Linked DNA regions of Homo sapiens. Changing the gene in region 2 together with the main gene of any one other region gives a genetic interaction. Each region holds a gene or a part of one and is shown on either strand. Other genes may lie near its edges.

Region 1 (3,655 bases), on a different chromosome or scaffold from region 2:
AAAGAAAAAAATGATATTACTCTTGCCCGAAGCTTAAAATGTTCATTTTTCTAAAATTTGAATGGATGTGGATAACAATCCTTACTTTTTTTCTTACATCAGTGTTACTTGCCAATGATTAGTCTTAATTACTGAAATTATTAGGAATAAGAAAGCATAGTGTCTACTTTTTTTAAAAAGTACATCTGAATGATATGAGTTTTTTTCTTTTTTTTTTTTTTTGAGACAAAGTTTTGCTGTCGCCCAGGATGGAGTACCATGGCACTATCTCGGCTCACCGCAACCTTCGCCTCCCGGGTTCAAGCAATTCTCCTGCCTCAGCCTCCAGAGTAGCTGGAATTACAGGTCTGCACCTAGCTAAAATTTTTTGTATATTTAGTAGAGATGGGGTTTCATCATGTTGGCCAGACTGGTCTTGAACTCCCAACCTCAGGTAATCCGCCCGCCTCGGCCTCCCAAAGTGCTAGGATTATAGGCGTGAGCCACGAGTTTTTCTTCTGCATCATTTATTACACATATTAGTGCTGAATATATATATATAAATATATATGAATATATATAATATAAAAAAATATATATATATATATATATTTTTTTTTTCCTTTCTCTTTCTAGATGGAGTTTCGCTCTTTTTGCCCAAGCTGGAGTGCAATGGCGCAATCTCACCTCACTGCAACCTCCGCCTCCCGAGTTCAAGTGATTCTTCTCCTGCTTCAGCCTACCGAGTAGCTGGGATTACAGGCATGTGCCACCACGCCTGGCTATCTTGTATTTTTAGTAGAGACGGGGTTTCTCCATGTTGGTCAGGCTGGTCTCGAACTCCCAACCTCAGGTAATCTGCCTGCCTCTGCCTCCCAAAGTGCTGAGATTACAGGCGTGAGCCACAGCATCCAGCCAAATATATTTTTGAAGTCTTTTCTTTAGAATTACAACCAAAGCAATTGCTCTAGTGTAATTTTTTCCCTCCTTTGAAAACTTTATTTGTGGGGAGGGGGAAACAAACAACTTATTGAAATTTGCAGTATGATATTATTTTAAAACAAAAGAAAAAAGATGTTAATTATTTGTGGGTATTAAAACACACACAGTAACTTAGTAATATGAGTTACTAACATCTTAATGTTTGTAATATAAAAATTAAGTATATTATAAATATAAAAATACAAATATGTAGTATAAATATAGTGTTTATAATATAAACACTAAGGTGTTAGTAACTGATATTGCTGGGTGGAAATACTATTATGGGTGATATTTATGCTGATTTTGTTGGTGATATTTTCTGATTTTTATGTAAGAGACATAGATTGAGTTTGCCTAAAAAACAAAAAAGAATAGAGTTTACTTTGTAAAAGTCAATGGCAAAGTTCAGCCCTGGAAAAGGCAAGAATATATGGCATATTTTGACCCGCCTAACTTCCCAACATTACTTTGTACACGTATTCACCTCTGTAATTCCGGGACTGTTTCTACATTATGTGCATACACATCTAATCCTGACAGAGCAACTTTTTCTATTGCTTTGAGATCACCTCGAAAATCAGGAGTAAGACACTCCACAAGGATTTTTGGATTCCTAAGGGGAAAAGAGAGAATTATCAAACAGAGAGAAAGAACTGACATACCTGTTCCTCAAAATAGAAATTATCAGTAATCGTTCAGTATGCTTCAACACAGTAACCTTTAGAACTTTGTCAAGAAAAGTATGAACATACAGATGTTCATACATGAACCATTATTAAAAAAAAAAAAGCAGACCGTTAAATACTATGTACACAGTGGTTAAAACACACCTGTAGGCAAACTGAATAAAATTTCAAATTATATATAGTAGACTTTTAAACCTAATTTAAGTAGGTTTTAGAAAAAGTAAATAATTGCAAGAAACTAAAATATGAAATATTAAAACATTAAATATAAAACTTTACTCATTGGAAAGTAAATTGAAGTATTTCTTATATAAATGTGAGTATTATTTGATTGCTTTAATTTTGATTTCTTTAAAAAGTCATCAAATCATGCTCTCCTCCCTTCCTCTAGGCAAATATTTCACAAGTGCTACGGGTTTTAAAAACTATTTTCTGGGTTGCTGAGTCATGAGCTTTGTTAAACGAAGTACGAGCTAAACATTAATCTTCCTATTTATATTGTGGCTATATCTATTCATCCAAGTATTATAATGTGAACTGGGTCACAGAGCTGTTCCCTTTGACACCAGCAAAAACGACTGAAACAGCTGACACATTTTTTCACAAACCCACTGGCAAAGTGTCTGGAGTTGTTCCCTGAAAGAACAGATGTAGAAAAGACCACATGTACACCCTTATCATGAATATAAGAGATATTCAAAGAACATATCCTATAATTTTTTTTTTTTAAATAAAAACAGGGTCTTGCTCTGTTGCCCAGTGCATCATAGCTCACTGTAACTTTAAACTCCTGGGCTCACGCAATCCTTCTGCCTCAGCCTCCCAAGCAGGTAGGACTATGGGCACATGCTACCACATCCAGCTATTTTTTTTTTTTAATTTATTTTTTGTAGAGACAGCATCTCCCTATGTTGCCCAGGCTGGTCTTGAACGCCTGTCCTCAAGCAATCTTCCTGCTTTGGCCTCCCAAAGTGCTAGAACTACAGGCGTGAACCACTGTGCTTGGTTCTATTGCTTTTTTAAACTGAAAGCTGAGACCCACTGAAGCTTGTAAAATAAACCTAGTGGATTGCAAACAGATTTTTCAAAAATGAACTATAGTAAATAGAAAATAGAAAATACTAGGGAATCATTTAAAAAATTTACTAAGTGCGCTTAGGTGCCAAACTAGTACTGAGCTGTAGAAAATTAGAATAATCTCAGCACTTTGGGAGGGCGAGGCAGGAGTATTGGTTGAGGTCAGGAGTTTGAGACCAGCCTGGGGAACATAGCAAGATTCCGTCTCTAAAAAAAAATGTAAAAACATTAGCCAAGCGTGGTAGTGTACCTGTAGTCCCAGCTACTTGGGAGGCTGAGGCAGAAGGATTGCTTGAGCCCAGAAGTTTGAGGCTGCAGTGAGCTATGATCATCAGGCCGCTGCACTCCAGCCTAGATGACAAAGCAAGACTGTCTCTTAAAAGAAAAAACAAAACAAACCCAAAAAAACAGGCCGGGCGTGATGGCTCAGGCCTGTAATCCCGCACTTTGGTAGGCTCAGGTGGGTGGATCAATTGAGGTCAGGAGTTTGAGACCATCCTGGCCAACATGGTCAAACCCTATCTCTACTAAAAGTACAAAAATTAGCTGAGCTTGGTGGCGTGGGCCTCTAATCCCAGCTACTCGGGAGGCTGAGGCAGGATAAATGCTTGAACTGGGAGGCAGAGGTTGCAGTGAGATGGTGCCATGCACTCTAGCCTGGGCAAAAGAGCGAGACTCCATCTCAAAAAAAAAAAAAAATCATTACTAAGAAGACCAGGTTTATACTTTTTAAAGAAAATTATTCAAAGTTTAGACTAATGCTCTAATATGAGGGAGGGATTCTATGGGCTAAAGGTCTATGGGTAAGTTCATGTCACTGAGCCCCTAAAATTCTCTGCAAATATGTATCTGTACATACAAATATGCTTTTTCCAAAGAAATGTGTACATAATTTCCAGTGAATTATCAGAAAACTATGAAACTCCTCA
Region 2 (3,655 bases):
GATTCCCCAGGCAGCACGGTGAGGCAGGATTTGGGAACACTGCCGAAGCTGGAGATGGGAATCCTGGCTATGGCTGTCTGGACAGCCCTGGGTGGGCACTGCCGATGGCACAGTGCATGGTTGGGAGGGAGCTGCTGCTGCTTCTCCTCCTGTTGGAGCCTGACAGGGGGCAGCTAATAGGAGCCGTGGCATCTCCACTGTCCAGCCCTTCTTTGTGGCTAAGCAGCATGTGGTCTTGTCCATAGGTTGATTATTGGGCAGTAATTACTGCCAATGAAATCTCCAAAAATTATTGAATCACAGAACAACTGTGTACTATAAGCTCAGCGTAGCACAGGACTTATGGCAGCGTAGCTGGTGGGTAGGAGGGTGGCTGGTGAGTAGGAGCGTGACTGATGGAGAAGAGCATGGCTGGTGGGGAGGAGTGTGGTGCTGTAGTGTGGCTGGTGGGCAGGAACGTGGCCGGTGGGTAAGAATGTGGCTGGTGAGTAGGCACTTGGTGTGGCAGTGTGGCTAGTGGGTAAGAACATGGCTGGTGATTAGGCATGTGGTGTGGCAGTGTGGCTGGTGGGGAGGAGCATGGCTGGTGGGTAAGAACGTGGCTGGGAGTAGGAGCATGGCCGGTGGTTGGGAATGTGGCTAGTGAGGAGGAGTGTGGGTGGTGGGTAAGAATGTGTGGCTGGTGAGTAGGCGAGTAGTGTGGCAGTGTGGCTGGTGAGTAGGAGCATGGCTGGTGGGGAGGAGTGTGCTGTGGCAGCGTGGCTGCTGAGTAGGAGCATGGCTGATGGGGAAGAGCGTGGCTGGTGGGGAGGAGCGTGGCTGGTGGGGAGGAGTGTGCTGTGGCAGTGTGGCTGCTGAGTAGGAGCATGGCTGATGGGGAAGAGCGTGGCTGGTGGGGAGGAGCGTGGCTGGTGGGGAGGAGTGTGCTGTGGCAGCGTGGCTGCTGAGTAGGCATCACACTTTGAGCTTTGAAGCGAGGCAGCCCAGGGTTCTGGTTTGGGCTTCTCCTGTAATGGTCACGTCATCTTGCCCAGGTTATCTTCTGTTGGCCACAAGTTTCTTCCTGCATAGAGTGGGGTAGTGATTACCTCTAGGATTGTGAAGGTGGGGAGAGAATGCGTATAAAGATGCTGCTTCCCAGTCTAGTACTGTTTTCTGTTCTGTTTGCCAGTCTAGTGAATTGCTCGATGACCAGCCACCACTCTCCCTCATTGCAAGGGCAGATAGGAGTGAGCTGGCTCTTTCTCGAGGCAGGTAGGACTGGTGGGCCGTCCCCTCAGGAGCCAGCTGTAATTTTAGAGTCCCTGTCCCTTTTCCCGAAGGGAGTGTTTTATCATGTCTGGGTTTATATCATCATCTTATGCAAGTGTCACTGATAGGTCCCAGTCAACTTGATAGACATGAAGCAAAACACACACACAAAATCAATACAGGATAACTAAACCATTATGTAGATATTTTATTCCAGGAGATGGATTGATCATCACTATAGTAGTATCATATTATGTTTTATAGCAGGGGTCCCCAGTTCCTGGACTGTGGACCGGTACTGGTTCATGGCCTGTTAGGAACTGGGCCGCACGGCAGGAGGTGAGTGGAGGGCGAGCAGGCATGACCGCCTGAGCTCTGCCTCCTGTCAGATCAGTGATGGCATTAGTTTCATAGGAGTGTGATCCCTGTTGTGAACCGTGCATTCAAGGGATCTAGGTTGCATGCTTCGTATGAGAATCTAATGTCTGATTATCTGAGGTGGGAACAGTTTTATCCCAAAACCACTCTGCCCCCCCATCCCACCCTGGTCCGTGGAAAAAATGTCTTCCACAAAACCAGTCCCTGGTGCCAAAAAGGTCGGGGACTGCTGTTTATAGTACTGGACTTTAGAGGCTCTTCTTTTATCTTCTTTCTCCTTATCGATTATCATAGCAGCCTTCTAAAATGATCAGGGCAAGCATTAATTGTCCCCATTTTGCAGATGTGAGAATTGAACCTCAGCAAGTTTGATTGATTTGACCAAGTTGCCCTGACTAGTAGATGGCAGGTATGGACTAGGGTGTGACGTGTCACTCTGTTCCAAAGCTGTCTCTGTTCTTCCATTTCCTGCTGTTTGGAGTCATTGCTTGGTGCCATCCAGTTGCTGAAGGAGTGATGGTTTATTTATCTTATTTGAAGAGCCAGCGTGTGCTCTCAGTGGGGTGACCGTGTGCCCTAATTTATGCCTTGCATAATTTATGTCCTGTGTCAGTATTACCAGTGCCCACAATTAGCCTTGGAGGTGTCCTGGCTCTAGACATACCAAATGGAGCAAAATCATATATGAATGAAGATACTGTTTTGTAAGTGTGAAACTTACATGTGCATTTAATGAACCAAGGTGGAAACAGCCTCTGCTAACCACAGGCCTTTTCCCTCTGAGTGTGTGTGGCGCTGCCGCGCTCTGCCTGCACTTCCACTCTTTTGGTTGTAGACTTCTCAGAAGCTGACTCACATACACCTGTATATAAATACTTAGATTCTACACGTTGGATAATGATTTGATTATTTCAGCAGGTTTTGTTTTTGTTTTTTTTTTGAGACGGAGTCGTCTCGCTCTGTCACCCAGGCTGGAGTGCAGTGGCGCGATCTCGGCTCACTGCAAGCTCCGCCTCCCATGTTCACGCCATTCTCCTTCCTCAGCCTCCCGAGTAGCCGGAACCACAGGCACCCACCACCACGCCCGGCTAATTTTTTTGTATTTTTAATAGAGACGGGGTTTCACTGTGTTAGCCAGGATGGTCTTAATCTCCTGACCTCATGATCTGCCCGCCTTGGCCTCCCAAAGTGATGAGATTACAGGCGTGAGCCACCGCACCTGGCCGCATATTTCAGCAGGTTTTTCAAAGCTTTGATGTGTTTATGTGTCTGCTCTCCTGCCCTGGGGCTGGGATGGAGTTTTGGTAAAGAGTGATGCTGTGCCTGAGCAGATTCCATGTCGTTTTCTCTGTAAATATTACCTAAGAAAACTGACCTATGGTTTAGTAAGCACCTTTGTGCCCACACTGTGCCAGGCGCTTGCCCTACGTTACCGCATTTATTCTTCCTCCCTTTGTAGATGAGCCTAGAGGTTCATACCGTCAGGGGCTGACACGTGGCGGTACCTCCAGCGGGAGCCCTGGATTTTTACCCCCTGGTCTGTCTCATTCCAGACTCTAGGACGTTTCTTCTTGCACACCTCACTTTTGACGTGTCCTTTTGTGTCTACAAAATTAGTATGTTTTATGTTCATTTTCATACTTGAAAATGTTCACATTTGTCTTAGTCCACAAACCATAAATGCAGTAAAATACACCTATAGGTGACTGCTGATATATTTTAAAAATATACAGAAAGGTATGCAACCTACATATTTACTTAAAGAAAACAAGTTTAAAAAACAATTAAAAAAAATTTTTTGATGGAGTTTTGCTGGATAAAACTGAATGAGAAAGAACACAGGTTTATCCCTTGCAGGCTGCTTCTGCTGTGGGCTCCTTGAACAGCAGAGCTGCCCCCAGGCATCCTGGAGTTACATCCCACAGCTCATCCCTGAAGGCTCTTGCCACAGGACTGGATGCAGGTGTATCAGGGTGCCTCTTCTAGCTTCTGATTCCTGTTGTTTTGACCTGACTCCTTTCAGTAT
Region 3 (3,655 bases), on a different chromosome or scaffold from region 2:
AGAATAGGGTGGTGAATGGTTCTAGAAGCTTGTCAAGGGACATCCATATGTCTCAAAGCTGAGGCAAGAGGAGGAGGATGGGTTTTATTCCCTTATTTCCCCTTTCCTTCAGTGGGCAGTTGTGAGCATTTTGCAAAATAGTATTCCTTAGGTGTAAACTCTGGCTCTCCAATTCAGCATGGAATAGATCTAAATAAATATCTTAAGGTAGCACTTACTGGTTACTCCCTGTTTGTGAACTCAGCAACTGCATGCATTTATTTGCCTTGTGGTATTCTTCCATATTTGAACTTGGTAATCCAAACTCCAGAAGCAAATCAACCTATCCTGCAAGGCTGTACTTTGTCCACCACCTTCCTATTGTAGTGGAAATAGACCATGAGCTCTCAGAATACCCAGTGGGACAGCAACAGGGCTGAGGGAACAGACCCTGATCTAACAGTAGAGGAAGGAACATACACTTTTGCTATGATATATCCAAGGAAATTGAATAAGCTTGGATATTTAATTTCTGTTATTCTGTTAGTTATCCTATTGATGCTCATATGGAACAGAAATAGCTGATGCCCATCATTCAAGATTTTAGTGACTACCATCCCCGCAGAGCAGAACTGAGAGTGACTGGTGGTGTTATATGCCCTGTTGATGGTAGAGTACTTTTTTTTTTAAATCTTGGGAGGCAGGCAGGTTTAAACTTTGCCAGCTGTGGTTGCTTCAGGAAGCATTCCAGTATTATCTTCAGGCCCGGTAGTATTAGGCCACAGGACCAGACTGTAGATCGATAACATCTGCCATAGGAGTAGTAATGGGGAGACTGGTGATGAGGTTGCTTCTTTGATTCTGTCTTAATTAACTTCCCTTGCCACAATTATTTCTATATAGAGGAGGTATGGAATTCGAATCTTTGCAGAGTGGGATTTTCACCTAGAATGTTCTAAATTTAAGGAAATTTTGAAGTCAAATTACCAGTTTATTTAAAGGGAGCCATTAAAGTTACAGATTTCTCGTGTTTTATTTTTCTGAGCTGTTGGGTTGTAGTCTCTAATACTTATCTACTGATGATTAACATTCTTAGTGTTTTATTAAATAGCTTCCATTTCCTTATATTTGTGGTTTTATATTTAGCGTTCTTCAGTGTGGTTTCATTATATCTAATTTGATGAAAAAAACAGCTTAAGAAGAAATTTGAATTTAATATGAATCTGGTATGTTCACAAGGGAATATTTTTGTTGGTAGAGACAGCAGCGGAGATTTAGCATTAAATGGTGAACAGCATTTTTTTCTAGAAAGTATATTATTATTTGTTTTCTAAAGATAGAGTTTATATCTTGTTAGTAATTAATTTTGTTAAAGTTTGCTTTTTACACAACTTCTCTGTAGACAGTTAATGGGAATGTCACTCTCATAATTTAATACAAATGGATTAGTGTAGGGTTGAAAAAACAATAGTGATTACTTACTGAATGGTTAACTACCATGTACCATGTAGGCAGCATGCCAGTAATCTTTCACATGTATTGATGCATTTAATCCTTGCAATAACTTGTAAGGAAACAGAACGTTATCATCCCCATTTTAAGATGAGGCTCACAGAGGTTAAGTAATAAATTGTTCAAGGCCACACAGCCAGTAAAGGTTGAATTTGGTATTTCAGACTCAGATCTGTATGACTAAAATACAACAATACCTGCCTCGTTTTCCAAGTACAACAGTGCCTTCCTGTATTTATTTTTATTGGGTTTTTTTTTGACAATATTGTCTGTACCTTTTCATTAATAACATTGACATTATGTTTTTAAAAGAGATGTGCTCTAAGTTCTATGTGAAATATGATTTCGTATTATTTTAACTTTTCTTGACCTGTGGTATGAACTGTGTTTATGCTGTGGATACTCTAATTATTATATCATTCAAATGGCCTTCTGTGCTCTCAGTTTAAAAAAAATTCAGTTTACTTGAAATAGCTAATATACTGTGAGTAACAGAAGAAAAACTTGACTGTGGAAATGTTTCTGCCCCTTATGTTTTTGGTGATGTGGTCCTTTAGCTTGAGTAACTAAAGTTGCAGAACATTTTCTTTTAATTTTTAAATATTAAAATATGTTAGGGTTATATTAAAATATGTTAATTAAAATTAACGTATTATGTTAATTGAGTTAGGTACAAAGGGAAGATAATACTGAATTTAAAGTGACAGCTAAGTCTTTGAAATACCAATAAAATCTGCATTTTTCTAAGATGACTAATAGATTTTTATTTGTTGATTGATTTTTAAAACTGAACATATAAAGTAATTTAAGTTATCTAACACAGTCTTATTAAACTTGCTTTTCAGAGTGGTTGTACTAGGTTGAAGACTTAACCATTTAGCTGCATTCTCACCAGCATTGACTATTTTATATATTATTACATCTATATTATTATATATTATATGCTATATATGTAATGCATTTTATATATCACATAATTTTTTCCCCTCATAGCTTTGCCATTTGGTAGGTGGCAAATGATTGTGAATTCCTAACAGGAATTGTTACAACTGATTGTCACAAATGATTGTGAACCACCAAAGGAAAATAAAATTCAAGTACTATAATTTTTAAAAATCTATAAAATTAAAACTTTTTTTTTCTTCAGAAACTTTTTTTTTTGCCCTAATAATGTTAATTGTTTTTAGTTTAAGCATAGAAAGTTTGGGTATTACATTACTTCTTTTGAGGGGAAGTGAAATGGAGCAAGATCAGTCTCTGTACCTTCTAAATATGTTTACCATCTCTATGTAGTAGCTTTAAAAATGTTACTGTGAAACATGGTAAGTAGTGGTGGTTGGATGTACCTTCTTATGTAAAATGAATAATGAAATCCTTCTTCTGTAATGTCATCATTGTCTGCAGAGTCCTTCGATATCTCCTAATACGAGTTTCACATCTGATGGCTCCCCGTCTCCATTAGGAGGAATTAAGCGAAAAGCAGAAGACAGTGACAGTGAACCTGAGCCAGAGGATAATGTCAGGTGAAGCCATTTTTTGGTAGCACTTTGTTAGCAAATTGCTGAAATAGATGCAGTCTAATTAATGCTATTTAGCTTAGAGCAGCAGTGCCTTCAGATGCTTGCCTGTGATCTTTTTATCCATCAGTAATTAATGTGGAGGGTTAGAATAGTCAGTAAATTCCAGTGAGATGTGTAAGCTGTAGCTGTTAAACCTAAGTGTCTAGATTAGTATGCGTGCAGGCTTTCGTCCTCCAATCCACTTTTCCCTCTGAGACCAGGCACAAGATCGGCTAGATATCATATCTAGGTGTTTAGCTCTGACTATGTGATCTGAATGTTGCTGTTTGGAGACTGATTAAATTTTCAAGCTGCTTAACCTAGAAAGTTCAGTTATACTTAGACACTTAATATAGTTTGCCTTAATCTTCTCTATTGAAAGAGTTCTTCCTCAAAATGAAATATGCAGAAATCATTCTGTTAAGAGATCAATATGTATGTTTTTTAAAAACCACAGACTTGCATATGCGCAATTATATTTCATGACAGAGGAGTTTCCCTTTAACTGTATACTTCAAATTTAAAATAGGAAGCTGATTCTTTAATTCATCCTGAAGTTTGAGATCATTATATAATAAGATTAACAACCTCTCATGTAATTAAAT

Evidence for each region.
Region 1: changes in TUBGCP3 (region 2) and LIAS together harm fitness less than expected from each alone (positive genetic interaction), as found in Homo sapiens cells (one large-scale study listed by BioGRID).
Region 3: changes in TUBGCP3 (region 2) and XRN2 together harm fitness more than expected from each alone (negative genetic interaction), as found in Homo sapiens cells (one large-scale study listed by BioGRID).

Annotation. Positions count from the first base shown.
Region 1 is NC_000004.12:39,465,439-39,469,093, reverse strand, and holds part of LIAS (lipoyl synthase, mitochondrial isoform 1 precursor), read right to left. Parts: intron 1,577-3,655; coding exon 1,448-1,576; intron 1-1,447. UniProt on the Homo sapiens protein: Catalyzes the radical-mediated insertion of two sulfur atoms into the C-6 and C-8 positions of the octanoyl moiety bound to the lipoyl domains of lipoate-dependent enzymes, thereby converting the octanoylated domains into lipoylated derivatives.
Region 2 is NC_000013.11:112,550,016-112,553,670, reverse strand, and holds part of TUBGCP3 (gamma-tubulin complex component 3), read left to right. Parts: intron 1-3,655. UniProt on the Homo sapiens protein: Component of the gamma-tubulin ring complex (gTuRC) which mediates microtubule nucleation.
Region 3 is NC_000020.11:21,341,195-21,344,849, forward strand, and holds part of XRN2 (5'-3' exoribonuclease 2), read left to right. Parts: intron 1-2,895; coding exon 2,896-3,014; intron 3,015-3,655. UniProt on the Homo sapiens protein: Possesses 5'->3' exoribonuclease activity. May promote the termination of transcription by RNA polymerase II.